7 linked regions of the Homo sapiens genome follow. The protein of the gene in region 2 interacts with the protein of the main gene of each other region in a biochemical or structural test. Each region holds a gene or a part of one and is shown on either strand. Other genes may lie near its edges. The genes, in order: MAP2K2, ARHGEF11, RSRC2, PALLD, AMOTL1, IQSEC2 and NHERF1.

Region 1 (4,508 bases), on a different chromosome or scaffold from region 2:
CACCCACCCAGGGCCTCCCTGCGGCACTTGCTGAAGAGGCTTCCAGCCCGAGGCCTGGAGCTGGTGTTGACCGCAGCTCTTGAAGAGCCTGCAATGCTCAGCACTTTTGGGAATGGATGATGGGCCCCAGGAAGCAGGGGCCTCCTCCTCCACAGCTAACATCTCAGAGGCTGCTCCAAGGCTCAATTTGGCAGGTTGCTGAATCCCCAGTCGTTTCCTGAAAGACCCCAGATTCCAATTCCTTGGTCCAGAAATTAACTAAGGGCCGGGTGCAGTGGCCCATGCCTGTAATCCCAGCACTTTGGGAGGTTGAGGTGGAAGCCCAGGAGTTAAGACTAGGCTAGCCAATATGGCGAGACCCCATCTCTACTAAAAACATTTTTTTAAAAGTTAGCCAAGGCTGCCGGGCACGGTGGCTCACGCCTGTAATCCCAGCACTTTGGGAGGCCGAGGCGGGCGGATCACAAGGTCAGATTGAGACCATCCTGGCTGACATGGTGAAACCCTGTCTCTACTAAAAACACAAAAAATTAGCCGGGCGTGGTGGCGAGCGCCTGTAGTCCCAGCTACTCGGGAGGCTGAGGCAGGAGAATGGTGTGAATCCGGGAGGCGGAGCTTGCAGTGAGCGGAGATGGCGCCACTGCACTCCAGCCTGGGTGAGAGTGTGAGACTGTGTCTCAAAAAACAACAACAACAACAAAAACAAAAACCAAATTACCCAGCTGTGGTGGCACATGCCTGTAGCCCCAGCTGCTTGGAAGGCTGAGGCAGGAGAATTGCTCCCGGGTGGGAGGCGGAGGTTGCAATGAGCCAAGATTGTGCCATTGCACTCCAGCCTGGGTGACAGAGCAAGACTCTGTCTCAAAAAAAAAAAAAAAAAAAAAAAAAAGAAAGAAACCTGGTAGGCACTGCTAGAGACAAAAACCTAAGAGAGAATTCCAACAGGAAGGGGAGATCTGGCCGGGCGTGGTGGCTCAGGCTCACTGCTAGTGGAATCCCAGCACTTTGGGAGGCTGAGGAAAGAAGGTCACTTGAGTCCAGGAGTTCATGAGCAGCCTGGGCAATACAGCGAGACCCCGTGTCTACAAAAGATTAGTAAATTAACAAATAAAAAATAAAGAGCAAGGGGAATCCGAAAAGCAGGCTCCCAGGAGGCACCAGCTTTAGACGTGCCTTGTGGCAAGTGGGGAGAGCTGATGAAGGGGAGGGTGCAGCTGGGGTGGGACTGTCCCGGGGGTGCTAACAGCCATGTAGGAGTGTGTGCCCACGAAATAGTTGGGAAAGCCTCGTGGGAGGCGGGGAGAGCTGCGCAGGAGAACTGGGAGGGACAGCTGCGCAGGAGACATGGGGGTGAGAGCTGAGGGGGAGAGCTGGCTGGCAGAGCTGGGTGGGGAGAGCTTGGGGGAGAGCAGCAGGGAGGAGAGCTGGAGGGGAGAGCCAGCGGGGACTCACAGCCATGTAGGAGCGCGTGCCCACGAAGGAGTTGGCCATGGAGTCGATGAGCTGGCCGCTCACCCCGAAGTCACACAGCTTGATCTCCCCTCTAGAGTTCACGAGGATGTTGGAGGGCTTCACATCTGGAGGCGGCAGGCTGCGGGTGAGGGGCGCCCAACAGTTGCCTGCCGGCCCCCGGGGCTCTGGGGAGGGCGGGCTGGGCCTTACCTCGGTGCATGATCTGGTGCTTCTCTCGGAGGTACGCCAAGCCCCGGAGAACCTGCAGGGGAGCGCGGAGGGAGTCACGGGACAAGGCCACCAGGGCTTAGCTCCTGACCGAGCCCGGGGGTCAGAGCTGAGCAGTCAGAGCTGGAGCGAGGGAGCTGCGGCAGGAACCATTTCAGGCTGTGAGGAGCTCGCTGGGGTGGAGCAAGCGAGGCCAGAGACGAGACAGTGCTGACAGCCCTGTGCTGGCGTGTGCAAGTCAACCCCGGTTCCCATGGCCGCAGTGCCGCCGATGCCACTACTGCCTTTGATTCAGAGCACACGGCTTAGCCCCAGGGAAGCTGAGATGGTGGCCCATGGCCCGGGAGTAGGCTGGGCTGCCGAGTTTGCCCACATCAGCCTGAAAGGCAGCATCTGGGGTCCCAGGGACTGTGCTAAGGGCCCCCAGATGGGACGGGCTAAGGGTGCCTGGGAAGGACGATGTTTCCCCCAGGCCCGCCCTGGAAGCAGCATCCCGAGAAGTGAAGCAAGCAGCACAGGCAGTGTGACGGCAGCTTTCAACTCGGAAACGCGTGTCTGGCAGCATGCGTCCTGTGTCTTAATCCAACACTGGTATGGGCAGGCGGGACTCGGCCCCTGCTATGGACAAGGTGCAAGCTCCAAGAAGCAACACGCACGGTCTGCTGAAACCACACGGCTCTACGGAGCAGCTGTGCTGGAGACCGGGCAGCAGAGACGCCCTTGGCCCCGGTGACATTTCTAACAGCAATGGTGAGTGTGTCTGGAGGTCCTGGCGTCCCACATCCCACCCCAGAGTCTCCCTTTCAACAAGCTCCTGTCCCCTGCAACGTGCCAGCTGCCAACATCCCCCTGCCACGAGGGGCAGAGGGGACCAGTGTGGCAAACAGAGGATACTAAGAGTGAAGAGGGACCTATAACGTCTTCACTTGGCAGATGGTGACCTCAGGCCCCAAAAGGGACGTCACTTGTTCAAGCTCCACAGCAGGTGGGCACAGCCTTGGCCACTCTCTTTCTGCAGGGGCCACCCTAACCCCCACCACACTGTGAGTGGCTCCCGGAACCCTGGCCGTGTGGAAGAGGTCCGTGCAGAGTGCGGTGGGGGCGCGATGTGGGTCTGCGGTGGACTCACCGCGATGCTGACTTTCCCCAGGATCTCCTCGGGAATCCTCTTGGCCTCTTTCAGCACCTGGTCCAGGGAGCCGCCGTCCTAGAGGGCACACAAGGAGTGAGTGCAGGCTCTGCGCAGGTGGCCGGGAAGCCACGGATGCGTCCCCCCACTCCCGGCGAGGGGGTGGTCTGCCTCCTGACGGGAAGCAGGGGCCGGAGCCCAACTCCACCCACGGGCCAAGGGCAGGGCGTCTTCTGACAGTTCTGCCTTTGGGTCTGAACACCCACCCACAAGGTGGGGAAGGAACAGGGCCCAGGGTTCCCCCGCCTCCCGTCCCATCCTCGAATCAGTTGCGTGACTCGGCCCTCCTGAGGTCGCCACGGCAGAGGCTCTGCTCCGGGCCAGCCCAAGCCGCGGCCGGGGGCTCAGGCAGCTGTGGGGCCCGCACTCCCTGCAGCCTACGTGGTGGGCTTGTCTGTGCGCCACGGGAGGCGGCCAGGCTGGAGACCAGCGTCTTGGGCCTGCGTCCTCTTCCCAGCACACGAAGGGAAGGGGAGGGTGAGGGCGCGGAGGAGACGCGGGTGCTGCCCCGCGTGGGAGGAGGCGGCGGGTCGCTGTGTGCCCGTCCAGACCCCCAGGGGGCTCCCTCGCCAAGCCCTGCGGCTCCACTGCTGGGCGTCTGCCCTGCGCCTGTCCCTGCCACCTAGGGCAGAAAGGCCAGGCCGAGTAGGACCAGGGGCCAGGGGGTGCATGGACTGCAGGAGGGATCCCAGTGACGCCAGCCCAGGTGACGGTAACCTCGGCCCCTCCCCACAGCCTGTGGTCTCCTCGCCACTGTGCCGGGCATCCTGCGGAGGGCCTGGAAACGAGTCATCATGGGTAGGCTGGTCCCCGGGTGTGGCCCCACATCCATGTCATAAATGATGAAACAGAAATTCCATGTCTTGCCCAAGGCTGCCTGGCAACAAACCTGGGGACCAAAACCCCCAAATGCCAAAACCCCAGGCACTGGGAGCCACCCAAGGTGCCTCTTCAGAGGCAGAGGCTCCGGACACACCTGCCAGGCCACCCCCAGGACAGCAGGGGTGACAGGCCAAGTTCCCACTGCCACCGTCTGGCGTGCGTCTCTTCTGTGCTCAGCAGAGAGGAAAGTGGAACTGAGGCTAGAGAGGGCGGGCTGGAGGAGCCTGGAGAGGCTGGCTGGGGAGCCTGGATTTCCCCACCATGCTGCTCCAGGACTCCTGCAAAAGCCCAGCCTTCCCTGGGATGGCTTTCATTCACATGGGTGGGAGGAGCCGGGGGAGAAATCCTGGGACTCAGGGGTGCCCGGGTTGCCGCTCTCTGGCCACTTCTGCCCAGCTAGGCTTGGAGAGAAAGGCCGAAGGCAGTTCTAGAAAACCCAACACGCTTTGAGACCTCTAAAGCATACACGTGACTCCATCCACCAGCTCCAGGCTGAAGACGCAGACACACAGGGTGAGAGGGCAGGTATGGCCAGGGCTCAGACAGCCCAGGAGGAGGTGCCAGGACGGGAGCTCCAGTGAGCCAGGGCCAGGTGGAAGCTGCTTCTATTCTCAGTTTTTATCAATCTACCTTAAAAGAATTACTTAAAATGAGGCCGGACATGGGCTGGGAGCGGTGACTCACGCCTGTAATGCCAGGACTTTGGGAGGCTGAGGCAGGCGGATCACTTGAGGTCAGGAGTTTGAGACCAGCCTGG
Region 2 (3,500 bases):
TCAACTCTCAGCAACCCTCTATCCTTGCCGCCACCCCTGAGATGTCCATGGGTGCAGCCGTTGTAGCCCTGCCCACCTGGTGGAGAGGCTGGAGGTAGAGGACGAGGCTGACTGGTGCAGGCGAGTAGCCTCCGCAGCAGCATCCATGTCAACATCACTGCGAGAGCGGGGCACGTTCTCTGCCTTTCGAGACCGTTTCATCTCTTCCCGGCCCTTGAGGCTTTCAGAGCGGCCCAGGCGAATCTCTGAGCGTGAACTGGGGGGAAGGGACAAAAGACTTTGGGACTTGGGAAGTCAGTGGGCCATGCTTACATCCTGGCTAACTCTTACCTGTGGCTCCATCTCAAAGATGCCTCCGTGCCACAGGTTCTCCTCCTGAACATGGCCAAAGCAGCTGGATGGCAGTGGAAGCTTCTCAATGACAGACTATTTTTGCTGCTCTACAAACTCCTCCTCTCTCCCCAGCCTAGCCTGATGGATGGACAGTCATCTTCCTCTGGAGCTATTAGGAAGGGATCCTAACAGGAAGATGAAATCTGGGGCTAACAGACTCTGAGTTGTAGTGTGTCCAGAGGCCTGAGACACCATGCTTCTGTCAAGAAGGTGGTAGACATCATCGTCCCTCAACAGGGAACACAAGGTCCCAGCTCCCTGCCCCTAGTGGCCAGTTCACGTTGCCTCTGCTTTGGAACGGGTCAGCTCCCACCTTTAACTCTGCCTGAGGCGAACCTCTTTTAAGAGGTCTTAAGAGGAAAGTGGAGTCACTATATTCACAGCTCATTTTAGGATTTTCCACACTGCCTGTCAGAAAGTTCTATCTGCTGCTGGATTCTTAGCCTTCCAGTTGTGATGTGGATGAGTTCCATTCTTATCTTAACAATACTGTTCCTAAGATTCCATTTCCTCTCAAGAGCAGACAGGCTTGTGCTTAAAGGGGCCTTTTTACTGATAGGCAGGACCCGCTCCTTGGCCTGCCGTGCTTGGCTACTGAGTGTCTCTGGGGTTTGATGAGATGCTGATGACTGGGTGTTGCGGTGTCGAGTCCTGCAGTGCATCAGCCCAAGACAGCTGGCACCTCTGACCCCTAGCTGCCCCAGGATGGTCACCCCACCTCCATGCTGTGGCCCTGTTGGGCTGGTTTTCTGATATTATTAGTAATCTACATCCTGCTCTGCTTCTAGGACCACAGGAGGCCTGGAAATGTCTGCAGAGCTCTTAATAGCACAGCAGGTTGCTGCAATGAGGAGCTAAATGTCTCGGTCTCCATTCATTGTGCCCAAACTGCCAGATGATCCAAAATGGAGCTCATCTCCTAGGGTCCTGAGGGTTTTGTCTGCAGGGTTAGAAAACATACTGCCCACTGATCCCTTATTGAATTCACCCTCCAGAATTGTGTTAGAACAATCCCAACCCAGACTAACTCGGAACACTTTTCAGTGTCCTAATGGGTCACTGTACCACCACAACAAACACCCAGTGGAGTTACTGGGGCTGCAGAGCTAAGCACCTTCCTTCAAGCACCCAGAAGTAAGTAATGCTCCTCACCAAGAAGTGAGGCATATCATCTGTCTTTGCCCCCAAATTCCTAGGGTATTGCCTTCTAGAACTGGGGCATCTTATACCTGTTGAGTATCTACAACAATCTCTGACCCACCATATTGCTAATACTATTTCTTCTGAGATTGCCAATGAGTTGATAATCATCAAACCCAAAGGCTTCTGCTTAGAGTAGCTTTAGGATCCTAGCAAGTGTCTTAGGGCAAATTTACCTAGCAATGCCAAGAATGCAACTTTGTAAATGGTCTCAAATATTTTCTCAAAATGTTGATGTCTTATAATCTTAAAATATTTGATATATCTACGACATCATGTGCTTCCACAGGAATCACATAATTTGCGTATTTAACTTACCCATTAATGTTAGAACTCAACCTTCCCCCAGTACAAATCTAACCTTTGTCTCCTGTAAATCTGTCAATTCTCATGGCAGCAAAATCTTTTAACACGTGTTAAGCTGAAAAAAGGCTTCATATAAACAGAAAGGAGTAACCTGCATTCAAGCAGGAAAGGTTGGCTTATGGTTTGATAATTAGTTATTTCAAAGGCAAAATAGGCCAGGTGCAGTGGCTCATGCCTATAATCCTAGCACTTTGGGAGGCTGAGGCAGGAAGATTGCTGTGGTTGGGAGTTCGAGACCAAGCTGGGCAACATAGTGAGACTGTCTCAAAAAAATAAAAATAAAAATCAATTAGCCAGGTGCAGTGGTGCATGCCTGTATCCCTAGTTACTCAGGAGGCTGAGGTGGGAGGATCCCTTGAACCCAGGAGTTTGAGGCTGCAGTGAGCTATGATTGCACCACTGCAATCCAGCCTGGGTGACAGAGAAAGATCCTGTCTCTTTAAAAAAGAAAAAAAAATCCCCAAAACAAACAAACAAACAAACGAAGGCAAAATGGCTTGAATATCCACGCTGCTGCATACTGACTTGCTTTCATGCCTGCCTATACTCCAGCTCAGTGGCTCTGAGGCTTGACTGTACACAAGCATTATTTCCCCCCACACAAGACCATATTACTCTACCTGTTTAAGTCACCTTTAAGGGTGGTGTTGGTTTTTAAGTGTTGGCTATAGAATTTTAGACATGACTTGACTGCTGTCATGCCACAATCAAGAGCAAGTAAGTCCAAGAACAAGTTTTCATACCAGATGGGGACTCTAGTTAGAACCTGACCAAAGAAGAATATGAGAGATGCCAGTCTCAATTCCCCTTTTTCTTCTTGAAAAGGGAAAAACAGTCCATTTGTAATCAATCCACTTTGCCTCTCTTTGCTGAGGTGGACATCTGATGCCTATAGTTACATCATTTGTCTTTAAAGTACCCAGCAGAACCTCATCTCTGGCTCTCTTCTTCACATACAGACAGGAAACCACTTTCTTTTGCCTGCCTGGGTCTTTTTTCCCCAGGACTCCCTCTTGCCCCCACTATAGTCTTCCTTATCCTTGTCACTTAGGGTTTCCTGATTAGCTGCTTTTTATCACCTAGCTCGATCTTGGATGAAGGCTACTGAGTAGTCAGGTGATAAATCCAAAGGGAATTTGAAAAGTGTGTAGTTCTTGGGCTGGAAGTCGGGGATCTGCTTGCTCTTCCACTGGCCTGTTCACTGGCACACAATGTGTCTCCTGAAGATACTGGGGGTGGGGAGGAAGTTCTGTAAAGGGAGCCTTAGAAGCTAGTGGAGAGGGGTCAAGTAGCTGGAATTAAACCCTAGCATCAGCCCTGCCCATGACCCACTCTTCGAGCAGCTGGCGAGTCCCATCCAGCCAGTGCTACCTGTCACTCTCCAGCAGGTCCTCAGGAAAGCTTCCGGTCGAGAGTCGTTGTGTCCCAGGTTCTGGGGCATCATACTGCTGGTTGTTCTCAAAGTGCTGAATGATGTTCCTCACATTGCCTGGTTTGACTAGAAGCAAAAAGAAAATGAAGGACACTAGGCTTGCTGTTCA
Region 3 (4,508 bases), on a different chromosome or scaffold from region 2:
CCACTGTGATTGAGCAGTCCTCTGTAAAAAAAGACACCTCTGATTACCTATTTTTGTCAGTCCAGAATATAACCTTAAAAAGTACTTAAATTACCAACATTATGGGAACCAGAGTTACCAAAGAGAGTAATGATGTAGTAAAAATAAAATGGCTATTTGTAAACTTTTAGAGTTTCAAATAAGTGCCACTGTTTACCAAAAATGTAAAAAACAACAAAAAACCATCTTCCAGATTAAATTTCATACCAAATCAACAGTAAGCTCTTCGTGATAATTTTTTGTTTTTTGTTTTTGTTTTTTTCTTTTTCGTGAGACAGGGTCTCACTCTGTCACCCAGGCTAGAGTGCAATGGCGTGATGTTGGCTCACTGCAACCTCTACCTCCCGAGTTCAAGCCTCCTGAGTAGCTGGGACTATAGGCACACACAACCACGCCTGGCTAATTTTTGTATTTTTAGCAGAGATGGGGTTTTGCCATGTTGGCCAGGCTGGTCTTGAACTACTGACCTCAGGTGACCCACCTGCCTTGGCCTCCCAAAGTGCTGGGATTACAGAAGTGAGTCACTGAGCCAGGCCTGATAATTTTTGAAATCTGCAATGTTTGTTACGCATAAAAACTTGATTTCTTGAAAGAGAAATACATATTTCAGATCAGTTCACTTTCTTGCATAAACTACATTTCCAAAATCGTAAAAGACATCTGGGGCCGGGCGTGGTGGCTCATGCCTGTAATCCCAGCACTTCGGGAGGCCAAGAAGGACGATCACCAGGTCAAGAGATCGACACCATCCTGGTTCAACACGGTGAAACCCCGTCTCTACTAAAAATACAAAAATTAGCTAGATGTGGTGGTGCACACCTGTAGTCCCAGCTACAGGGGAGGCTGAGGCGGAGAATCGCTTAAATCCAAGAGGCAGAGGTTGCAGTAAGCTGAGATCACGCCACTGCACTCCAGCCTGGGCGATGGAGCGAGACTCCGTAACAACAACAACAAGATCTGTCATGATGACTAGTGTTACATAAACAAACATACTCATTACTAATTTATCAACAAAAATTATCCACATGGACCACATCAGAAACAAGCTACAAAACACTTAAGTGAGAACACTAAAATACACGTTTACAGTGTACTGATGGGAAGTAGGAATCATAGGTGATTTTCTTCCTATTATTTTCTATATTTTTCAATTTTTCTACAAAAAGCATGTCAAACTTAGGCTGGGTGCAGTGGCTCATGCCTGCAATCCCAGCACTTTGGGAGGCTGGGGCAGGAGGACTGCTTAAGCCCGAGATCAAGAATAGTCTTGGCAACATAGTGAAAGGTCCTCTCTACAAAAAATAAGAAAAAAATTAGCCATGCATGGTGATGTGGGACCTGCAGTCCCAGCTACTCGGTAGGCTGAGGTGGGAGGATCACTTGAGCCTGGGAGTTTGAGGCTACCATGCGCTATGCTGGAGCCACTGCACTCCAGTCAGAATGACAGAGCAAATCCCTGTGAAAAACAAAAAAGCTTGAAAGAGCTCAAATCGAGATGACTAAAAAAGAATGAAAAAAATTACCTGCAGCTATTTCTTGTTGTTTTTGTTTTTCAACCATTTCCTTTTCTCGCTGTTCTTGTAATTTCTTTGCCCTTTCCAACCTGCAAAATTAATTTCAATGAATTTAAAATAACACAATATAAAACCATTATGTATATATCTCTCTATATGTGCATGTACAGAGACAAGCCAACTTCCATAAAATTTTAAATTTTTAGCATCCCTCCACCGATAGCCGTATGTGAAGAAAAAGCAATCATTCTTAAGATGATATAAGCTACATTTGAAGAATACCACAACAGTGGTTTTAAACATTTTTGAATTGACTAGTCAGAAATGGGCATAGTTTTTATATGCAGTTCCAATTAACAAGTGAAAAAAATTACGTCTTGCAAGTAACATATTGAAAGCTGAGTAAATTTTAGAGCATGGTTAAGTAGTAAATAAATTTATAGAATTATCTAAATGTTTCTTGAGGGAGAAAAAGCCAGCCGATCAAGACATTCGGATAATTTTTTATATTGTACAGACCTTAGTAAAGTCTTCAATTTAATAAAAATCAAAAAGCCAAAACTAAAAGGTCAAGCAAACCTTGCCATTCTCTGTAATCTAATAAAATGGGAGGAAAACTTTTCTCAATTAGGAAATTACTTCTAGCAGTTGAACAAATTTATCATTTACAAAGGAACTAGTAACATGAAACACAAATTCATCCCAAAACAAAAATGAATTTTTTTTTGAGACAGTCTCACTCTGTTGCCCAGGCTGGAGTGCAATGGCACGACCTTGGCTCACTGCAACCTCCGCCTCCTGGGTTCAAGCGATTCTCCTGCCTCAGCCTCCTGTGTAGCCGGGATTACAGGTACACACCACCATGCCCAGCTAATGTTTGTATTTTTAGTAGAGATGGGGTTTCACCAATGTTGGTCAGCCTGGTCTCAAACTCCTGACCTTCTGATCCGCCCGCCTTGGCCTCCCGAAGTGCTGGCATTACAGGCGTGAGCCACCATGCCCAGCCCAAAAATGAATGCTTGTTCTCTCTACTCACTCTGTTGAATGAGTAGTGTGCATACATTAAATTCACTAATGAGTATGCACACTAAACAAGCTATATGTTAAGTTTACCCTTTCTATATAGCAAATAACAAGTAACATTATCTTCACAATGAATTCCTGAAAGAGGAACTCTTTTCTTCCTAAGGATTCCCTGATTTATCAATCAAGCCAAATGCCACTAACGCCCTCTGTAATGTGGTATAAAGGGGACAGGACTGACAAAACTTGTTTTTGTTTTGGGGCACTATGGGTAATACAATGCAGGGGTAGTAAATTGGATTTGCTTTAAGAATTGTTAAGTCGGCCCGGCGCCACGCCTCTCGCCTGTAATTCCAACACTATGGGAGGCTGAGGTGGGTGGATCACCTGAGGTCAGGAGTTAGAGTCCAGCTTGGTTATTAACATGGTGAAATCCCGCATCTACTAAAAATACAAAAAATTAGCAGGGCGTGGTGGTGGGCGCCTGTAATCTCAGCTACTTGGGGTGCTGAGGCAGGAGAATCGCTTGAACCCAGGAGGCAGGGGTTGCAGTAAGCTGAGATCACACCACTGCACTCCAGCCTAGGCAACAAGACTTCATCTCAAAAAAAAAAAAAGAGGAAAAGGAAAAAAAAAAATTGTTGAAATTTACATAAAAGAAATATAACAAGCTATAATTTTATTCCCTTTTATGAAGCACATATGCATGGAAGGCATAACATAGACTTGACTTTGTCCTTGAGAATAAAAGTTTGTAAATTAGCAGTAACAATAAAATGTAGGTCGCAGGCTTGGCAAGGTGGCTCATGCCTGTAATCCTAGCACTTTGGGAGGCCAAGGTGGGAAGACTGCTTGAGGCCAGCAGTTCGAGACCAGCTTGGCCAACATGGCAAAACCCGTCTCTATTAAAAAGAAAACAAAAATTAGCTGGGTGTGGTGATGCGCATCAGTAATCCCAGCTTCTTGGGAGGCTGAGGCACGAGAATTGCCTGAACCCAGAAGGCAGAGGTTGCAGTGAGCCAAGATCATGCTCCTGCACTCCAGCCTGGGCAACAGAGCAAGACTCCGTCTCAAAAATAAATAAATAAATAAATAAATAAATAAATAAATAAATAAATAAATAAAATAAAATAAAAATAAAAAATAAAAAAAGTAGGTCACAGATCTGAAATGTATTTCCTAAACAGTTTTAAATCCTGACCTTTAAGCCAAAAAAGAAACCAATATAAAAGGTCTATACATGGTAGTTTCTTAAGAAAAAAATTCTCCAGATTTCAAGGTAGTAAATAATCTCATATTCTGAAATTAAAGAACTACATTTAAAACTTTATCTGAAAGATCACCAAGTAATCTATATATCAATGACATTTTGGATGCTATTAACGGCTTCACTTTTAAAAAAATCCAAAAACACAAACAGAATAGACTTATGGCATTCAAGTAAATAAGAGCTTAAAAAATATTTGTCAGAGTTAATGAAATTACAATCTAGCATATACTAAATCCAATTTTATAGTAAATTATTTCCATACTAGTTTCAGAAAGAAGATACGTGTGACTACAACTGGTTGCATTAAAATGGCCATTGAAGATTTGGAATTAATACCATTCACTAAGGTGAATGGAAAGAAGGGGTGAGCTCACACTTTTGCTGCTGTTCAGCTGCAGTTTCTGTCAGGCTGGGTTCCCAGGGAAGCACATCAGGTTACACTGTGTTACCAGCCTGGGCAACATAGGGAGACCCCGTCTTCTCTACAAAAAATACAAAAATTAGCCAGGCATGCCTGTGGTCCCAACTACTTGAGAGGCTGAGGTGGGAGGATTGCTTGGGCCCAGGAATTCAAGTATGCAGTGAGCCGTCATCATGTGCCACTGCACTCCAGCCTGGGTGGGACCCTGTCTCAAAAAACAAAACACCTTAATTTTGTAACG
Region 4 (4,508 bases), on a different chromosome or scaffold from region 2:
GCAAAAACGGCCTAACACAACTCTCCTCATGGTTATTTCTTCACATATTATTACCTTTATATAAGGCAACTTTTTGCTTGCTTCTAAGAATTTTAATCATCCAGCACTAAATTTCACATTTCTCAGCTTTTGGCTCCCTATCATGTGATAGTGTAGTTTAGGGGTTTTAATTTTTTCCCTTTTTTTTATTCTTTTCACTCAAGCTCTAGGGAAAAGTGTACTCCTGTTTACTGCCTTGCTGGGCTAGTAAACAGTTATTCTAGTCCTTCCTTTAAAGATAGGGCAGCTCCTTATCCAGCATTTCCATATGTTTGTATGGAGAGAGCTCCCATCCAGGTCATCCTAGTCCTGCATGGTATCAGAATTTGTCATTATCCGTTCTAAACAATATTCTTCACCCCACCTCCCTCTGTAAATATTAATATAAGCAGCCTTGGTTTTTTGATTAAAGATTGGAAGTTTTTACAACCAGTGGTGAGCATTACTTGTCTGTATGGTACAGAGCACTGGGTTCATATGCAGGCCTGGCCACTCACCAGCTCTCTGACCTTGGAAACTCACTTCACAGAACTCAGTTTAGTTATTTGTGATTTGGGAATAACAACGAGGAATAAATGATATAGGTGTGTGAAGAGCTCCCTGTTAGTTATTCTCTATTCTTCAAACCCAAACTCCACTCCCCCCACCACCTTTTTTGGTTTCTAATGCCTCCTGAAGATGGCCCAGAACTTAAGAATATTTAAAACCCTTTATATCGTGGGTATTGAGAAAGATCATTTGTATCTCTTTCTCCTACTGGCATGCTATGTTTTGGAAGCTAAACCTTTCCTCAGAGAATGACTCTTAAAAAGCCTCCATCTCCCAGCTCACCTTTGGCTTTGGATTTCCAGCCACTCTACATGTGAAAGTTACTGGCATTCCCTCAAAGATCTTGTAATGTTTCAGCTTCATCTCAAAGAATGGTGCCATTCCATTTTCCACAGGCACATCTCCATACTGAACTTCATCACCTGATTCATCCACAGGAGACCTTTCTAGCCTGTACTCTATTTCACTGATGAGTCTCTGTTCACAGCTGGAGACTTTGTATTCCTGAATCAAGGAAAGTTTAAGTTAGCAGACTCAATCCCTTCTGACAAAGTGTCACGTCTCTCCCTGCCCCCCAATAAGGCCCTAGAAGACAGTGATATTTTTACCATACAGCTTAAAAACACAGTCTGAGCCCAATTCAATTGCATATGAAACAAAAAACATCTGGAAGTGAGTTTATGTGGTATTTCAGATTGTCTTCAAGTCCTATCATCCAAAAAGAGGGGGGTAGGAAAGATGAATTTTTTTTTCCTTCTTTTCTCTGAGGCGAGGGGAAACAAGGGGAAGGAAAGAAAAAGGCAAAAGCAAAGCTATGTATTCCTAAACTGTTGATAACAATAAAATATAATGGAACGCTGATTTCCTTCTGTAGGGTAAAAGCTGATGCAGGGTGGTACATCTCTCCACATAGTACATGTGGCAAGCAGCTGCCATATTATATACAATTATAGTAAAAGAATAATAGAAAAAATGGTACTAGAAAAAATGGTAATAGAAAAAATAGTAAAAGAATAATAGAAAAAAAAAAATGTTTGTTTTTTTTCCCCCACCTCTAACAATCCCTGCCTTGCAAGGGCCGCCTCCTCAGCTCTGCAGCTGTTAGGAACCCACCATCTTTAGAAGAAAAAATAGGACTGACAGTCTAGCCAAAATTTTGCTTTAAAAAAAAAAAACAACCCATCAACATTCCTGTGGTGATTACGGTGGATCCTACAATTTCCTTGCCTACAAAGTGCATTAAAGGCCAGGTACAGTGGCTCATGCCTGTAATTCCCAACACTTTGGAAGGCCGAGGTGGGAGGATTGCTTCTGGCCAGGAGTTTGAGACCAGCTTGGGCAACAAAGTGAGACCCCATCTCTACAAAAAATTTAAAAAGAACAGTAGCTGGGCATGGTGGTACATGCCTGTTGTCCCAGCTACTTGGGAGGCTGAGGTGGGAGGATCACTTGAGCCTGGGAAGTCGAGGCTGCAGTGGGCCGTGATTGTGCCACTGCACTCAAGCCTGGGCAAAAGAGTGAGACCCTGTCTCCAAAACAAAAAAGTGCAATGAAGACAAGGGAGTCTATGTAAATATTCCCTATTTAATATTAAATGAAAGATAACTTTAACTATGTTTTCTCTTAAAGAAGTTACTCAGTGTTTAAAAAACAAGTTTGTTGGTTTGAGGGAAGAAATACAACAGTATGAATAAAACTGCAAGAGTTATACCACAAGTTGTTTTGCTTCATCTAATTACTATCAAATTAATCCCTTGAAGAATTAGCACTTTTGTTCCCCATAGAAAGGTATATATAACAAATGAAAAATTTTTCTTGATTTAATGTTCAGAGTATCCACTAATGACAGAATTAAATTCAAGTCAGAGGCCAGGCACTGTGGCTCATGCCGTATTCCCAGCGCTTTGGGAAGCCAAGGCGGGTGGATCACCTGAGGTCAGAAGTTCGAGACCAGCCTGACCAACATGGTGAAACCCCATCTCTGCTAAAAATACAAAATTAGCCAGGCATGTTGGCATGCACTTGTAATCCCAGCTACTTGGGAGGCTGAGGCAGGAGAATCGCTTGAACCCAGGAGACAGAGGTTGCAGTGAGCCAAGATCACACCATTGCACTCCAGCCTGGGCAACAAGAGCGAAACTCCATCTCAAAATAAATAAATAAATAAATAAATACATAAAGTAAAAATAAATAAATAAATTCAAGCTGGTAAATACATGACAAGAAAACTCATGTTGCAGTAATTTTGTGTATCTGATATTAAATGAAACAGACACTGGTCATAGCATTTATAATTAATATATGGCAGAAAAGATAGAAACACACGTAAAACAGGAAGAACAGAAGAAAACAGACACAGAGAAAGACTGGAAGGAGAAGAAAGGTGAAAAGCTTAACCTTTTGACCATCCAGAGGACTCCCTACAGAAGCATGAGGAGAACCAATGTCCTGTAATGGTAGAAAAAAAGATGTGAAGACTAATAATAGAAATAATAAGAATGCAGCAAGATTTCTAATTTTCCTTAAGTGAAACTTTTGTGCTAGCAATATGCGTTTGGTAGTAACGGTGCTGTGAGTACTCACACAACCATTCTGCTTCTCACTTTTGGTACAGGACTCCATAAATCACATGAGATATTCAATACTTTATTTTAAATAGGCTTTGTGTTAGATGATTTTGCCCAACTGTAAGCTAATGTAAGTGTTGTGAGCACATTTAAGATAGACTAGGCTAACCTAAGATGTTCAGTAGGTTAGGTGTATTAAATGCACTTTTTTTTTTTTTTTTGAGATGGAGTCTCGCTCTGTCACCTGGCTGGAGTGCAGTGGCACGATCTTGGCTCACTGTAACCTCTGTCTCCTGGGTTCAAGCGATTCTCATGTCTCAGCCTCCCGCGTAGCTGGGACTACAGGCGCACGCCACCACACCCGGCTAATTTTTGTATTTTCAGTAGAGACGGGGTTTCACCATGTTGGTCAGGCTGGTCTTGAACTCCTGACCTCAGGTAATCCACCCGGTCTTGGCCTCCCAAAGTGCTGGGATCACAGGCGTAAGCCACTGCGCCCCGCCTTAAATGCACTTTCAACTTACAATATTTTCAACTTATAATGAGTTTATCAGGACATAACCCCATACTAAGTTGAAGAACATCTGTATATATGTGAAAGAAGATAAAGAGATAATATTTTCTATTTTATTTTGACTAGATATTAAGACTAAACAGTTGATCTTTGAACAACACAGGTTTGAACTGCATGGGTCCACTTATATATGGATTTTCTTCCGCTTCTGCAACCCCTGAGATAAGCAAGACCAACCCCTTGTCTTCTTCTCTTCAGACCACTCTAATTTAAGACAATGAGGATGAAGACCTTTATGATGACCCACTTCCACTTAATGAATTGTAAATGTATCTTCTATTCCTTAAGATGTTCTTTGTAACATTTTCTTTTCTCTAGCTTACTTTAAGACTACAGTCTATAATACATATAACATACAGAATACGTGTTAATCAACTCTTTGTTATCAGTAAGGCTTCTGGTCAACAGTAGGCTGTTAGTTAAGTTTTTGAAGAGTCAAAAGTCGTATATGTGTTTTTAGTTTTGTTTTGTTTTGGAGACGAAGTCTCACTCTGCTGCCAGGCTGGAGTGCAGTGGTACAACCTCAGCTCACTGCAACCTCCACCTCCCGGGTTCAAGCAATTCTCCTGCCTCAGCTTCCCGAGTAGCTGGGACTACAGGTGTGCGTCACCACACCTGGCTAATTTTTGTATTTTTAGTAGAGACGGGGTTTCACCATGTTGGCCACGATGGTCTCGATCTCCTGACCTCGTGATCCACCCACCTCAGCCTCCCAAAGTGCTACAATTACAGGCATGAGCCACTGTGCCCGGCCATATGTGGGTTTTTAACTGTGCTTG
Region 5 (4,508 bases), on a different chromosome or scaffold from region 2:
AGCCCCTTAGAGGGTCTGTTGTCACTCCATCCGGGGAAAGGTTAGTTAAAAAGTATGCATTGCCAGGGTAGTCTCAAGCCGTGCACTCATTTCAAATAGTAATAAACTAGATGTGTCTATATGCATATTTATTCCCGTAATAAGAAAGGGCACACATATCCTAAGTGCATTAGAATAGCATCCCCATAGAGTAAGAGCTGATGGGTGCCCCTGCTTCCTCTCTAGCTCAACAAAAGATTCTCTTAGGCCAGACAGTTCCACAGTTTTCAGGGGCATCAAGGTGGGGTAGCCCACATACCCAGTTTCTCTGCGGTCCCTTTGGCCGCTGGGTGTTTCAGGACGGGGCTGTGAGCAGGGGTCGTGCTCAGCCGGCCGCGGCTGGGAAGGGAGGCCATGCTGGGCCAGAAGAGCTCGGCACTCTTGTCAGTCTGTGTGCTGCTGTCCTTGCTGCCTGTCTTGGCGTGGGCACTGCTGGCTGCCGTAGTGGAGGCTATGGAGGACAGTGCTGAGGTGGGTGGGGGTGGCAGCAGTGGGGCAGAGGCATGCTCATGGTGCTCCTTCCCCAGCAGCAATCCTGAGGGCAGAGAACAGATTTTTCAACATTCTTTTTTTCCTTTTTTTTTTTTTAAATCTAGTCTTGCAGATCTGTTCCTTGTTGATTGATGATTGCTTCATTCATTCATTGATTCATTCCCCAAGCATTTAATAAACACTTATTACAAGGCTGATAAAATAACAAACACTGAGAGAATAAAAAATGGAAGACCTAGTCCCCTTCCTAAAAAATTGTAGGTTTTTTTTGTGTGTTTTTTTTGTTTTTTTTTTTTGGAGTGGAGAAGTAGTTGTCAAGTAAACTGATTATAACTTAATATATAAACTGTAGGATACAAATAAATTATTCACAGGGTGGTATGGACGAACAGAGAAGTGCCTAATTGCCAGCAGGAGGGGTAGGGAGGTTCCCACAAGGCTTTCCAGAGACCATGCTTGCTGTTACCAACGTGGCCCAGAAGGGCTGGCCTGAAGCGTGGCAGTGTGCTTAAGAAAAACTACAAGGCTTCCCCGGTCCTAGACATGTTCCCATTGGCTTGCTGCTCTTCTGAATAGTTCACAATTCCACCCCACTCCTTGTAATGGATGATGGTCCCCCACAGGCTTGGATTCAAAGATAAACATGCTACCTGCACATTTCTGCGGTGGAACTGTAGCCTCCCAGAAGCAGAAAGCCAGCCAGCCTCCTAGGAAAGGCCACTTAGCCCTCTCCTTACCCCCTTCCTCAAGAGTAGTGAGGCTGGGGTGGGGAAGAGGGGATGCTGGCTATGGAAATGGGAGGCGTGGTGTGCAGAGGTGTCCATTTTCCTCAGAGCCTTCCTGGAAAGCTGGGTGGGAGGATAACTTTTTATTTTTAAATACAGCACACACGCGGGAAAGTGCCAGCACCCTAGAATGCTAGCCTATAGAAAAGGCGGTAAGCGCAATCAAGTATTTGTTCTCTTATCTGGTTAGATAGCCAGCAATTCATAAAGTATCCTCGCCAGAGCTGTTTTAAGGTGCCCATTTAGAACTCAGGGCAGTTCAGTTTGTCGAGAGCAGTGCTTTTCAAAATGCAATGTGCATAACAATGACTTGGCTATACCGTTAAAAGGAAGACCTGATCCAGCAGGCAGGGCCTGGGATTCTGTATTTCTAAGAAGCTCCCAGATGGTGCTGGTGCCACTGGTCCACAGACCACGCTGAGCAGCAAAGGCCTTCACCTGCGCTTCCCACATCATCTCACTTCATACTGCATGTCATTCCTGCGAGACAGGCCTTATCCTGTCTTACGGAGAAGGAAATGGAAGCTCACAAAAACTAACATCTCACAGCTAAGAAGCAGCAGAAATGGGACTCAAACCCAACTGTGCCTGACTTGGAGTCCAACCTATGTTCTTTCCACTTCATCGCCCAGCCTGTGGAAACTCCAGAGTCTGCAGGATGTCCTCGTAGGGAGTGACAGGCTGAATAAGTCACTAGCCAGCCATAGCTCCTGGGATACCCTGGGCAATTGGGAAGGTATATGCTGTCACCTCCACCTCCTTCCAGAGCCTATCAGGCAAGCAATGGTGACAACATGTGGGGAACTGTGCAGTCACCCATGAACCTGCCTCAGCCCCTTGGAGAGTCCCTGTGTTTGTGACACGTGGACACCAATGACAACAATGAGGAGGAATATCAGTGCAGGGAACACAGCAGCTCTTCCTTCAAACAAGTCCTCCGGCTCCCAGGCCTGGTTTAGACATGCCAGGTCCTGGGGCATACGGGCACAGACACCAGAGATGCCTGCCTGGCTGCACGTCACAAACAGGGGACTCCCAGGGAGGTTGCTACCAGAGCTGAGCAAATTTTCAAACTCCTTGACCAGGCCTGGCTCAGCACTGCCTCCCAGCTCTCTAGCTGGGGTGGGAGCTAAATGTCCTTGGGACAGTCTTTGATGATCTCAGCTGCTGTCCACACACGTCTTCTTTGAAGTGCATTTCCTTTGGGGGCAGGGGCTGCTGAAGCCACCAGTGGAGGGACTTCAAACACAGATTCTGGTTGGGAGCCTTTGATCCCCCCAACTCTGTCGGGTTCATATGGAAGCTCTTATCCCCTCTGGCCCAGAGCAGCCAGTCTCCTTTGGGGTCTTATGCTGAGGACCACTGGCTCTCAGCTGCACAGAGAAACAAAAACACGATCTGATGTGGGGAAATGCATCAAAGAAGGGCCAGACCCCTGGAGAGGCCAGAGTGCAGGGGAAGGATGTGGAGGACCTGTGTCTGAGCACGCTGCCTGCTTCCCCTCCAGCTTGGCTAGCCCAGCCAGCCAACAAGCCTGCCTGCCCCCAAGAAACCTACTCCTGGCTAAGACCACACTTAGGGAATTCTGCCCATGCAACAACAATACAGCAAAAACTTACCACCCCTACCTTATGCGAGAGAGCACTTCTTCCAATGTGCTCTCCCCATTATCCCATTCTTCCCTCCCACGCCCCATGGGGTAAAGCAGGCAGACACTGTCCTCCCCCCATTATCCCATTCTTCCCTCCCACGCCCCATGGGGTAAAGCAGGCAGACACTCTCCTCCCACCATTATCCCATTCTTCCCTCCCACGCCCCATGGGGTAAAGCAGGCAGACACTCTCCTCCCCCCATTATCCCATTATTCCCTCCCACTCCCCATGGGGTAAAGCAGGCAGACACTGTCCTCCCTTTCCAGACGTGGAAGCAGAGGTGGAGCCGTCATACAACTGGTCTAGAGCAGAGCCAAGTTCAGAGGCGTGATGTCTCTAGGCTTTTCTATGAGAGCCTTTTGTGTTATAAGGGTCACCTCAACTTACAACAATAATAGATAATTCTGATCTGAGTCAACCCATGGCTAAGAGCTACTCCAGTGGTGCAGTCTTTAGAATTTACACAATGCTTCCACATATCTATAACTGAAGTATGACTGATTTCCCTCCCCACTTCACAGATGAGTAAACTGAGACCAGGAACTATTCAGGGACATTTCCGTGTCCCATGAGTGGCAGAGAAGCTGTCTGGTCTTGCTTTTCCAATCATGGTCTGACAGAGGTGTGGGGCTCACCTATGCTCCCCTTCCAGGTCTTCTCTTCCTTCTTTTCCTCAGCCAGCTGGCTGCTGGTAAGAGAGGTCTGGCGAGAGTGTGTCCCAGTAGCTGCTGCTATGGATGGAACGGAGCGGGCAGGACGTAGGCTGGAGGAGTCTGTCTTCCCGGCATCTTTACGAGATCGCTGCTGCAGGACCTTAATCATAGCATCTTTCTCTATGATTTTGGCATGGAGATTTTTAATACTGTAAAACAAAACAAAACAGTCTCCATAAAAAGCCACTTGGCTAGAAAAACTTGAAACATTTATCTCAGGCTGTCCCAAAGACTTTAATTGTAATTTAGGGATACAGGATGAAGCACAGTACGAGTCTTCAAATGTTGATAATCTCCAAATTGTTAAGACAGGTCTTTTGTCATATGTCAAAAGAGTACACCTTCTCTGGCACCTTGGGAGACTGGGACTTCAGCGAGGTACAGTTAGAATGACCGTGGCCACATTCCTGGACCGAAGTCGGCTGGGGACCATATTTAGAGGGTCTAGCATTGGCGGTGGGGGCCGGGGGTAGGTAGGGGATAGGGAAGCATAAAAACTCTAAAGCCTCAAACAGGGTGAGCTTTCAGCTAAAGTCAATTTCTCTATTTTCTAAGAAAAAAGAACCAAGATGAACAGGTTCTCTGGTAGAAGATGATTTTTCTGGAAGAATGCTGAGTTATTTTCACAACTTTGATAGTAACTCACTGAGCCTATCTATCAATGGCTCAACTACTCAGCCCTATTTTCACATCTGCAAAATAAGAGGCCTAGGGCTCCCAGGGTTCCACAAGCCCTTAGGTAGTGAAGGGGGACAGGCTAGTTTTATTATGTCAAAAAGTCTGCTGGAAATTTTGTGTAGCCCATCAGAAGAGTGCATTAGCTAAAT
Region 6 (4,508 bases), on a different chromosome or scaffold from region 2:
GGAGAATCCCTTGAACCCAGGAGGCGGAGGTTGCAGTGAGCCGAGATCGCGCCATTGCACTCCAGCCTGGGTGACAGAACGAGAGACTCCATCTCAAAAAAAAAAAAAAGAAAAGAAAAGAAAAGATGCTCTGAATGCTGGCATTCATACTAGGGTGACTCTTCTAATCAGCGTTCTCTTTTCTGCTCACACCCTGACTGGCCTTATACAAGTCCTTTCTCTCTCTGGGCCTCAGTCTTTTCATCTGTAAAATGAATAGCTTCAGTTGGATGATTTGTCAGAGTCCTTCCAACTTGTGATTTCTTGATTTCTATGCTGGTATTATTAAAACCCTACTGGTCATGAACGCTGCCACTCCTCTGAGCTTCCAGAGCAGGCTGCGCTCCCCTCCATCATCATCTTTCTCCCCACATAGGTTATCTCTACTCCCACTGCCCAAGCACAGGCCTGATCATCTCTCATCTAGACTGCTGTACCAGCCTCCTCCCTGGATACCCTCCAATCTATCTTCCAAACTGCCCTCTAGGGGGATCTCTCCAAAACGTGGCTCTTGACATGTTCTCCCACACCACAATAAGCACCTCTCCCCCAGTTTAAAATGCTACTTGGCCAGGCATGGTGGCTCATGCCTGTAATCCTAGTACTTTGGGAGGCCAGGGCAGGTGGCTCACCTGAGGTCAGGAGTTTGAGACCAGCCTGGCCAATATGGCAAAACCCTGTCTCTACTAAAAATACAAAAATTAGCCAGGCATAGTGGCACACGCCTGTAATCCCAGCTACTCGGGAGGCTGAGGCAGGAGAATTGCTTGAACCTGGGGCGGGGAAGAGGCTGCAGTGAGCTGAGATCACGCCACTTCACTCCAGCCTGGGCGAAAGAGCAAAACTCCGTCTCAAAAAAATAAAAACAAAAACAACACAAAAACAAAACAGCAGAAAGCTCCTGACGCTGCTAGTGAAGTGTCCTCAAGATGTGAGCCGGCCAACCCTCCAGACTCCCCTGCGAGTCTCTCTGTTTGTGCTCTAGTTTGTACTGAACTCATAAAAAAACAAAACAAACAAACAAAAAACCTCCCCATACACATATCCTGCTGGGCCCATACCTCTGTGTGTTTGCTCATGCTGGCCCCTCTGCCTTAACCTCCCTTTTGCCCCCAATTCCCACCAACCCACATGCTGTCCTTCTTCACCTAGCTAACTCAAACTCATCCTCCAAGCCTCAGCTCAGGTATCACCTCCTCCAGTAAGCCTTCCCTGACAGTCCAGGGTGATGTCTCTCCTTTGAGCACCTGTGGCCCCCTGTGCTCCCCTCTGGCATGACACACTGGATAGCACACTGCAATCGTCTATTTCCACCACCACCTTCTCCACCCAATTATGAGCACCTTGAAGCCAGGAACTATATACTAATCATAGAATTCTCTGCCTGTGATGGCACAAGGCATGGCACATCCTGGCATGCAATGTTCACTGGACTGACCTCTCTCTCTGAAATGTGGTGAGCTGCCACATGGTTTCTCCTCCTGTCCTCCCACAGCACAGAGCTTTACAGAGTTATTATTAATAATAATGGCTATCGCTGAGTAAACACATACTGTGTGCTCAGCGCTTCACCTACGTCATCTTATTTAATTTTCACAACCATCACAATGAGATGGGTTGTTTATGAATTGGCTGGCATATCAGATATACAGTTGTGAGAGATGCCTCTCAGATTTATAAGAAAATGTGGGGGAAGAGCCAAGTTAGGTACTTTTCATCACAGATATAATGACAATAATTCTAAAGTGGTTATATGAAGGAAAATATTGGTTTTATTCAGGTGAATGCAGTATGCTGTATCCTGGAATCCAGCAGGAAATCACAGGGCCTGGATATGCAGTCCTATCACTCCTTTAAAAAGGTATAAAAATCACATCGCTCCAACGAAATGCACTAGTGAAACATTAGTGAAATGGTACCTATTAGGTGATGATAGTGATACATTTACATCTAAAATGTTGGAGGAATAATCCTGATCAGCCGTGTAGCTCTGGCTTGTCATCTTTGTTTTGAAAGGGATGCGATGCATCGGTCTTTGCATTGTTGTGTGTTTGCCACATTCCGCCTCTAGGGGGCAGGGCAGTCTCATGTATTATTTTCCATTCTCAGCTTTCCAGCCTGATCAGGACCTTGATGTACGGTATGCCAGGCAGCCAGGAAATTTTCTGATACAATTTTTTTGAGGGAGGTAGGGGGCTGGCAACATGAATCTCATGCATCAGAAAATACAGTTTTATTCCTATTTACTACTTGAGAAAACTGAGGCTCTGAAAGTGAAGTGATTTGCCTAGAGTTACACAAAGTCCTTCCATGGCACCACACTTTCTCTGAATGCTAAGGTCCCAGAGAGCTTCAGCTACTAAGCACTGGGGAATGGGCTTCCCCGTGTAAATGCTTCCAACAGGCAGGCTTGGAGAGAAACCAAATACCATGAGGAAGTTATAGTAACTGGCAAATTATGTTGCCCTAAACGAGCTTCCCCAAAAGAGGAAGTAAGTCACTTACTAAGCATTCTTCCCCATGACCAATGTTTATGATCCTGCCAGGGAACACTGCAGTGAGTGAGGCAGAGGGGCCAAGTCTTATGTCAACCCTGAGATACCATGTCCAGCTCAGGGTCTGAGCTCAAGAAAGGTTTGATGGATAAATAAGCAACTTCCCACTGGGCTGAGTGAACTGCACACAGGTCCTGTGCAGGCCTCTTTGCTCCTTTCAGAACAGAAGACTTGGCATCGAGGGTCAGGACCACAGCCTGACATGGCAGGGAGAGATAATGATCAGCAGATTGGTCTAAATGTCTCCAAAGTCTCGTCCAAGTCTGCTACCTTGACATTCTATGAATCGGAAGGCTGGTGAGCGTGAGAAGAGACAGCAAAGGCCAAAATGGCTCCAGGGAGCATGAGAAAAAAGCCACAGAAAAGCCAAAAGAATTTATTTTTCCTTAGGGATGGGATCTCAATTTGTTGCCCAGGCTGGAGTGCAGTGGCACAATCATAGTTCACTGTAACCTCAACCTCCCTGGCACAAGTGATCCTCCCGCCTTGACCTCCCAAAGTGCTGGGAGCTACTGTGCCTACCCCAAGAGAATTCTGAAGTTGTCATTTCTTACTACAGGAGTCCTGGAAGGAAGAAAAAATTAGGTACCTTTGGCTATTAGTTCAGCAGGACTCAATCAGACATTCATTTATCTACTCAGTATTTATTAAGCAGCTACTATGTGCTGTGCTATGTGTTTCCAAGCTTTTAGCTCCTTCACTCATGCCCACAGCACCTAACACAGAACCTGACACACAAAATGCACTCAGTATATGTCAGTTAAATGTAAATCTGAAGGGGGTCTCAGTCTAACAGAGGGGACATGAGATGTAAACAACCATGAAGGAATAAAAAGGGGCAATGTGCTCATTGAGAGGGTCAAGGATAGACCAAACATCAGAGACACCAGCAAACAGACATAGGAGAGGTAACAGCTGAGTCCAGCCTGGGAACTGGGTACAGCAGCCCAAGAGAAGGGAACAACATGAGCAAAGACCTAGAGGCTAGCAGAAGGCCTGAGTGGGCTAACCAGGGGGGCACACGGGTCAGCCTGGCTGGAGCATAGTCTGTACAAAGACGAGAGGAAAAAGGCAAACTGGGGACAGATCCTAAGAAGACCATGCAGGGCAGGCGGAGGAGTTCTCAGGCCAAAGAGAGAGTGAAACTACTGGAGCTGGACTGCAGAACATGGTCTGGCTGCACCTCATCAGAGGCTTGATGGAGAGAGAGCAGGAGGGGCAATCTACTAGGAGACCATGGCCAAAATTCAGGGGGTGATGGTGAGAGGGAGCCTGCCTAGAGCAGGGGTCCTGGGAGCTCTGTTGGAGGAAGCTAGAGCCACATACCTGGAGTAGCTCTGATGTCTTTAAAGCCCACCTGCGGGAGGCAGCGGTGTACCATAGGTTTGGAAGCCAGACAGTTCTGGGCTCCATCTGCCTGAATAACCTCGGGCAGGTCACTGTACCTCTCTGATCCTTGTTTCCTTGTCTGAAAAAATGAAGATAATAGGCTGGGCGCAGTGGCTCATGCCTGTAATCCCAGCACTTTGGGAGGCAGAGGTGGGCGGATCACCTGAGGTCAGGAGTTCGAGACCAGCCTGACCAACATGGTGAAACCCCGTCTCTACTAAAAATACAAAAATTAGTCGGGGGTGGTGGCACGTGTTTGTAATCCCAGCTACTCGGGAAGCTGAGGCATGAGAATTGCTTGAGCCCAGGAGGTGGAGGTTGCAGTGAGTCAAGAGTGTGCCATTGCACTTCAGTCTGGGCAACAAGAGTGAAACTCATAAAACAAACAAACAAACGAACACACCCATCTGACAGGGGCTCTGTGCAAATGAGGTAAGAAGTAGTGCTCCAGGGTGGGTTAGAACACTGCGGACCCTGAAGCCCAACTCCCTGGGCTCCTCCAGCTCCTTCACAGTTCTGCCACTT
Region 7 (4,508 bases), on a different chromosome or scaffold from region 2:
CCTGGGGACACCATCACCAGCCAAGTCCCAGGACTTCTGAGTTCTGGTTCTCCCATCTGTGAGATGGAGGCATTGGGCGATGTGATGCCTGCCTTCTCTAGAATTATAGAAATGACGTGAAGCACTTGAGCCCCTTACTAAATGCTGAACTGCACTCCTTCATGCCTGGCGTTTGAATCCCAGCTCCTCTAAACTGACTCCTAGTCAACACCATTGAGTCCTTCTAGCAGAAAATCCTCTCCTCTCAATCCTGTGTGTTGAGCATACAGACACCCATGTGGTTATTAGAAAAAATGTTAACAGACATTGTAAGAGTTCGTTTTTCTAAAACACACCCGTTTCCTACATAAAGCATCAAATGGAGGTTTGCCAATTCGTTTTAGTCTGAATTTGTGTGCAAGGTGGGGCTGTTCCCTTGTCTTCATTAGCCCTCCACTTACTAAGTGATGATATCAGTGGAAAAGTGTGGCGCAGAGAGTGGTTGGCTGGGTGGCCTCTGGCTGGGAAGACCAGCTGTGTCCAGAACCACTCAGGGCAGAGGCTGAGGGGTGCCTGTAACACTGGCCATCCCCGCTGGGGAGTCTAGGCCTAAGGAGGTGGAAGTGGCTCTCCAGCTCTGCCCACCGGCTTTGCTTTGTGGATGGCCTTCCCCGCCTGCCCCGTGGGGAGAGAGGAGCAGCAAGACCCGCCCTGCTGTTCCCCTGCTTAAAGCCCTCCTCCCCCCATTCACCACCAGTCACAGGATGAGGCCTAAACCCTTGAGTCTGGGTTCAGAGTGCCGGCCGGGCAGAGCCGAGCCAGCTCAGCTGTACTAGCCAGGCTGTGCGAAGCCAAGTTACCTCACCTCTGTAAGCCTCCATTTCCTCTTGTGTAAGTTGGGGGTTATGGCAGCTACCTCGGAATTGCATGAGGCTGTGTGTAAAGCACGTAGCTCAGTGCCTGGCACTGAGTCCAGGCTCAGCCAGCCTTTGCAGTTGGTATTGGAATGAATACATATTTCATAGTGATCATTGCACACCTATCATGGGGCAGCTAGCGCTGGGTCAGCCTGCCTAGTTGGGCAAATGCCACTGTGGCCAAGCCTGGCACACAGTCAGTGCCTGATCGATGGTCACTGTGGGTTAAGAATGATACGTTGTGGCCAGGTGTGGTGGCTCACACCTGTAATCCCAGCACTTTGGGAGGCCAAAGTGGGAGGATCGCCTGAGCCCAGGAGTTTGAGACCAGCCTAGGCAACATGACAAGACCCTGTCTCTATTAAATTTTTTCTTTTTTTTTTTTAAGAGTTATATGCTGTTCCATGGCCCTTCTCCATCTGGCAGCCTGTTCTCACCACTGCCTCCCTACCCCCAAAACCACACCCAGGGTCCGAATTCCCCTCTAGCCTCTAAGCCTTCACACCCTGACACTTCTGTCCCCTCCCAGGGAGCCTGTCCTTAATCCAGTAGGCAGAGTTAGCATTTCCTTTCCTTCACTTTTTTTGTTTTTGTTTTTGTTTTTGTTTTTTTTGAGACAGATTCCACCCAGGCTGGAGTGGTGTCGCAACCTCGCCTCGCTGCAGCCTCGACCTCCAGGGCTCAATCGATCCTCCCACCTCATTCTCCCTAGTAGCTGGGACTACAGGCATGCACCACTATTCCCAGCTAATTTTTAAATTCTTTGTAGAGATGGAGTTTCACCGTGTTGCCCAGGCTGGTCTTGAACTCCTGGGCTGAGGTGATCTGCCAGCCTCGGCCTCCGCCTCCTCTTTGTCCTTACATCTTTTATCGCTCTAAACACACAATATTTTAATCATCTGTTTGTGACCTTTTTCTCCACTACGTGGTAAGCCCAAGGGCATCAACTGTGGCCTATTTGTGTTTCTATCCCCAGCGCTGTCCTTGGCACATGGTAGGGAGGCTCTCAAAAACAGTTTTTGAATTAATGAATGAATATATAACAACAGTCAGGGACCTTTGTCCTCATTCAGCTCATCCCGCCCCGCCCAGAGATTGGAATTCCAGATAGAACCTACCCACTCTTCTTTCTTGCCTGCTAGCAGCTTCTATTTGAAAACTAGAAAGCCAAAAGTCCAGGCTTTGGGGTCAGCCAGATCAGTGTTTGAATCCCAGCTCTGCCGTGTGCTGGTTCTGGGATCCTGGGAGTTCATTTTTCCCTGCAACCCTCAGCCTCCACCTCTGTGAAAGGCACTGCCTGCAGGGTTATTGGGAAGATTTGGTGGCATGACAGGTTTGTAAATGAAAGTGCTAGTTTGGGGTGTTTCCTGCCAGCCCTGACCCTGATCCCAGAGTCAGAGTGCAGGCACCCCAGGGAGCAAGGTGGGTGGTGGGGCACAGTTAGCTGGAGGGCCATCAACCTCTTTCCCAGGGCGGGCGGGCCATTTTACACCAACCAAGTTGGAGCTCTGGTAGGGCAGAACAGAGCTTGAGCTGCTGGGTGTTTGGATTTGAAATGGACAGGGTATGTGATTGTTTGTGTGTTGGGATCTCTTTCTTTGCTGGCAAAACAGTGTAGCCCCTGGTTCTTACCTTCAAGCTCCTGTTAACTCAGTAATTCTGGAGATGATTCTCTTGGAGATAGATGGGGGCTTCCTGGCCGGGCGCAGTGACTTGTGCCTGTAATCCCATCACTTCGGGAGGCTGAGGCGGGAGGATCGCTTAAGCCCAGGAGTTTGAGACCAGCCTGGGCAACATAGTGAGACCTCGTCTCTACCAAAAAAACAGGGGGAGGGGGGTGAATGGGGGCTTCCTTCTCAAGGAACTCCATATGTCTAGATGGGGTCCTTCTCCCCTTTCCCAGATGTCCCATCTCAATGGTCCCTGGGAAAGTGGGGTGGGAAATTAATAAGAAACTCAGGCCAGGCACGGTGGCTCACGCCTGTAATCCCAGCACTTTGGGAGGCCGAGGCGGGTGGATCAGTTGAGGTCAGGAGTTGAGGTCAGGAGTTCAAGACCAGCCTGGCCAACATGGTAAAAACCCATCTCTACTAAAAATACAAAAATTAGCGAGGCGTGGTGGCAGGTGCCTGTAATCCCAGCTACTCGGGAGTCTGAGGCAGGAGAATGGCTTGAACCTGGGAGGTGGAGGTTTCAGTGAGCCGAGATCGCGCCACTGCACTCCAGCCCGAGCAGCAGAGTGAGACTCATCTCCAAAATAAAAAAAAAAGAAAGAAGAAGCTCAGCCGAGGTCTTGTTGGTGCTGCAGGACTCTTTACAGGGAGAAACCAGAGCTCTAGACCCCAATAACAAATGTTCCTCTGTTTTCGTTGCTCTAAGATAGAGTGGCCCTACCTGGAAGGAAACAGGTTTGTACAGTGCCTTTAGGCACTCTACCTATGACATAAAGATGTTGACATGCATTTCTTTCTTTCTTTCTTTCTTTCTTTCTTTTTTTTTTTTTTTTTTTTCCTGAGACAGTCTTGCTCTGTTGCCCAGGCTGGAGTGCAGTGGTGTGATCTCGGCTCACTGCAACCTCCGTCTCTCAAGTTCAAGCAATTGTCCTGCCTCAGCCTTCCATGTAGCTAGGATTACAAACACCCGCCACCACACCCTGCTAATTTTTGTATTTTTAGTAGAGACGGAGTTTCACCACGGTGGCCAGGCTGGGTGGCACCTGTCACAACACCCTGCTAATTTTTGTATTTTTAGTAGAGATGGGGTTTCACCACATTGGCCAGGCTGGTTTCAAACTCCTGACCTCAGGTAATCCACCTGCCTCGGTCTCCCAAAGTGCTGGGATTATAGGCATGAGCCACCACACCCAGCCAATATGCATTTCATTGTCCCCCAGACAAATTAGCTATTGTTTTCTCTATTTTGTAGGTTGACAGTAAGTGTTCAATACATGATAGCTACTATTTGTGTCTAGCACTGTGCTAAGTACTAACCTTGCCTGTCTCATTTAATCCACATGACCACCAGTGAGGCAGATATTGGCCCCATTCTCTGCCTATGGAGGCTGAGGCTTGATCAGTTAAGGTGGCCATGGCGGGTCCCAGGACTCTGAGCTAGCGACTCCTCCCACACAGCGCAGGGGTGTGTCTTGGAACCCAACCCTCTGACTCTAGTGCCTGCACAGCCATTTGGCCACATGAGTAGGCTGTGCTTGAAGCCTGACTCTGCCAGGTGTTTCTGCCCATCATATTCTGAGCCACAGCTGGACCATCACAGTGGTATAAATTCAGGCTGCTTGAACTGGCTTCCTGTAAGGATCCAGGGCTTCCAGGTGCTCCTGTCCCTAGCAGGGCATCCTTGCAGTGCCTCAGCCCATAAGTGGCAGGCTCCTGTCCCCATCCCTTCTCACGTGATGTGATAGGTCAATCTGGAATCTGGTAACCAAGTATCTACCCCCGCCCTCACTCCCCAGAACCTGCACAGAGAGCCCCCCTCAAGGGTGGTCTTCACTGTTGACCGAAGCCTTCCCCTCATGGTAGGACAACTCACCATGTCCCCAGACTCCTAGGCAATGTTTAGGTCCCTAGGCCCTAGAAAAGGACAAGAGTTACAGAT

What was found.
Region 1: the proteins of ARHGEF11 (region 2) and MAP2K2 interact in a test that uses a peptide from one of them, tested with the Homo sapiens proteins (one large-scale study listed by IntAct).
Region 3: the proteins of ARHGEF11 (region 2) and RSRC2 interact in a test that uses a peptide from one of them, tested with the Homo sapiens proteins (one large-scale study listed by IntAct).
Region 4: the proteins of ARHGEF11 (region 2) and PALLD interact in a test that uses a peptide from one of them, tested with the Homo sapiens proteins (one large-scale study listed by IntAct).
Region 5: the proteins of ARHGEF11 (region 2) and AMOTL1 interact in a test that uses a peptide from one of them, tested with the Homo sapiens proteins (one large-scale study listed by IntAct).
Region 6: the proteins of ARHGEF11 (region 2) and IQSEC2 interact in a test that uses a peptide from one of them, tested with the Homo sapiens proteins (one large-scale study listed by IntAct).
Region 7: the proteins of ARHGEF11 (region 2) and NHERF1 interact in a test that uses a peptide from one of them, tested with the Homo sapiens proteins (one large-scale study listed by IntAct).

The regions. Positions count from the first base shown.
Region 1 is NC_000019.10:4,099,567-4,104,074, forward strand, and holds part of MAP2K2 (dual specificity mitogen-activated protein kinase kinase 2), read right to left. Parts: intron 3,641-4,508; exon of another isoform or gene 3,251-3,640; intron 2,888-3,250; coding exon 2,810-2,887; intron 1,715-2,809; coding exon 1,663-1,714; intron 1,578-1,662; coding exon 1,453-1,577; intron 1-1,452. UniProt on the Homo sapiens protein: Catalyzes the concomitant phosphorylation of a threonine and a tyrosine residue in a Thr-Glu-Tyr sequence located in MAP kinases. Activates the ERK1 and ERK2 MAP kinases.
Region 2 is NC_000001.11:156,948,243-156,951,742, forward strand, and holds part of ARHGEF11 (rho guanine nucleotide exchange factor 11), read right to left. Parts: intron 3,458-3,500; coding exon 3,331-3,457; intron 1,776-3,330; exon of another isoform or gene 384-1,775; coding exon of another isoform or gene 331-383; intron 278-330; coding exon of another isoform or gene 257-277; coding exon 77-256; intron 1-76. UniProt on the Homo sapiens protein: May play a role in the regulation of RhoA GTPase by guanine nucleotide-binding alpha-12 (GNA12) and alpha-13 (GNA13). Acts as guanine nucleotide exchange factor (GEF) for RhoA GTPase and may act as GTPase-activating protein (GAP) for GNA12 and GNA13.
Region 3 is NC_000012.12:122,509,547-122,514,054, forward strand, and holds part of RSRC2 (arginine/serine-rich coiled-coil protein 2), read right to left. Parts: intron 4,329-4,508; exon of another isoform or gene 4,221-4,328; intron 1,643-4,220; coding exon 1,563-1,642; intron 1-1,562.
Region 4 is NC_000004.12:168,895,077-168,899,584, reverse strand, and holds part of PALLD (palladin), read right to left. Parts: intron 3,993-4,508; exon of another isoform or gene 3,833-3,992; intron 3,037-3,832; coding exon 2,986-3,036; intron 1,093-2,985; coding exon 871-1,092; intron 1-870. UniProt on the Homo sapiens protein: Cytoskeletal protein required for organization of normal actin cytoskeleton. Roles in establishing cell morphology, motility, cell adhesion and cell-extracellular matrix interactions in a variety of cell types.
Region 5 is NC_000011.10:94,865,264-94,869,771, reverse strand, and holds part of AMOTL1 (angiomotin-like protein 1), read right to left. Parts: intron 3,831-4,508; coding exon 3,604-3,830; intron 575-3,603; coding exon 299-574; intron 1-298. UniProt on the Homo sapiens protein: Inhibits the Wnt/beta-catenin signaling pathway, probably by recruiting CTNNB1 to recycling endosomes and hence preventing its translocation to the nucleus.
Region 6 is NC_000023.11:53,311,027-53,315,534, forward strand, and holds part of IQSEC2 (IQ motif and SEC7 domain-containing protein 2), read right to left. Parts: intron 1-4,508. UniProt on the Homo sapiens protein: Is a guanine nucleotide exchange factor for the ARF GTP-binding proteins.
Region 7 is NC_000017.11:74,751,014-74,755,521, forward strand, and holds part of NHERF1 (Na(+)/H(+) exchange regulatory cofactor NHE-RF1), read left to right. Parts: intron 1-4,508. UniProt on the Homo sapiens protein: Scaffold protein that connects plasma membrane proteins with members of the ezrin/moesin/radixin family and thereby helps to link them to the actin cytoskeleton and to regulate their surface expression. Necessary for recycling of internalized ADRB2.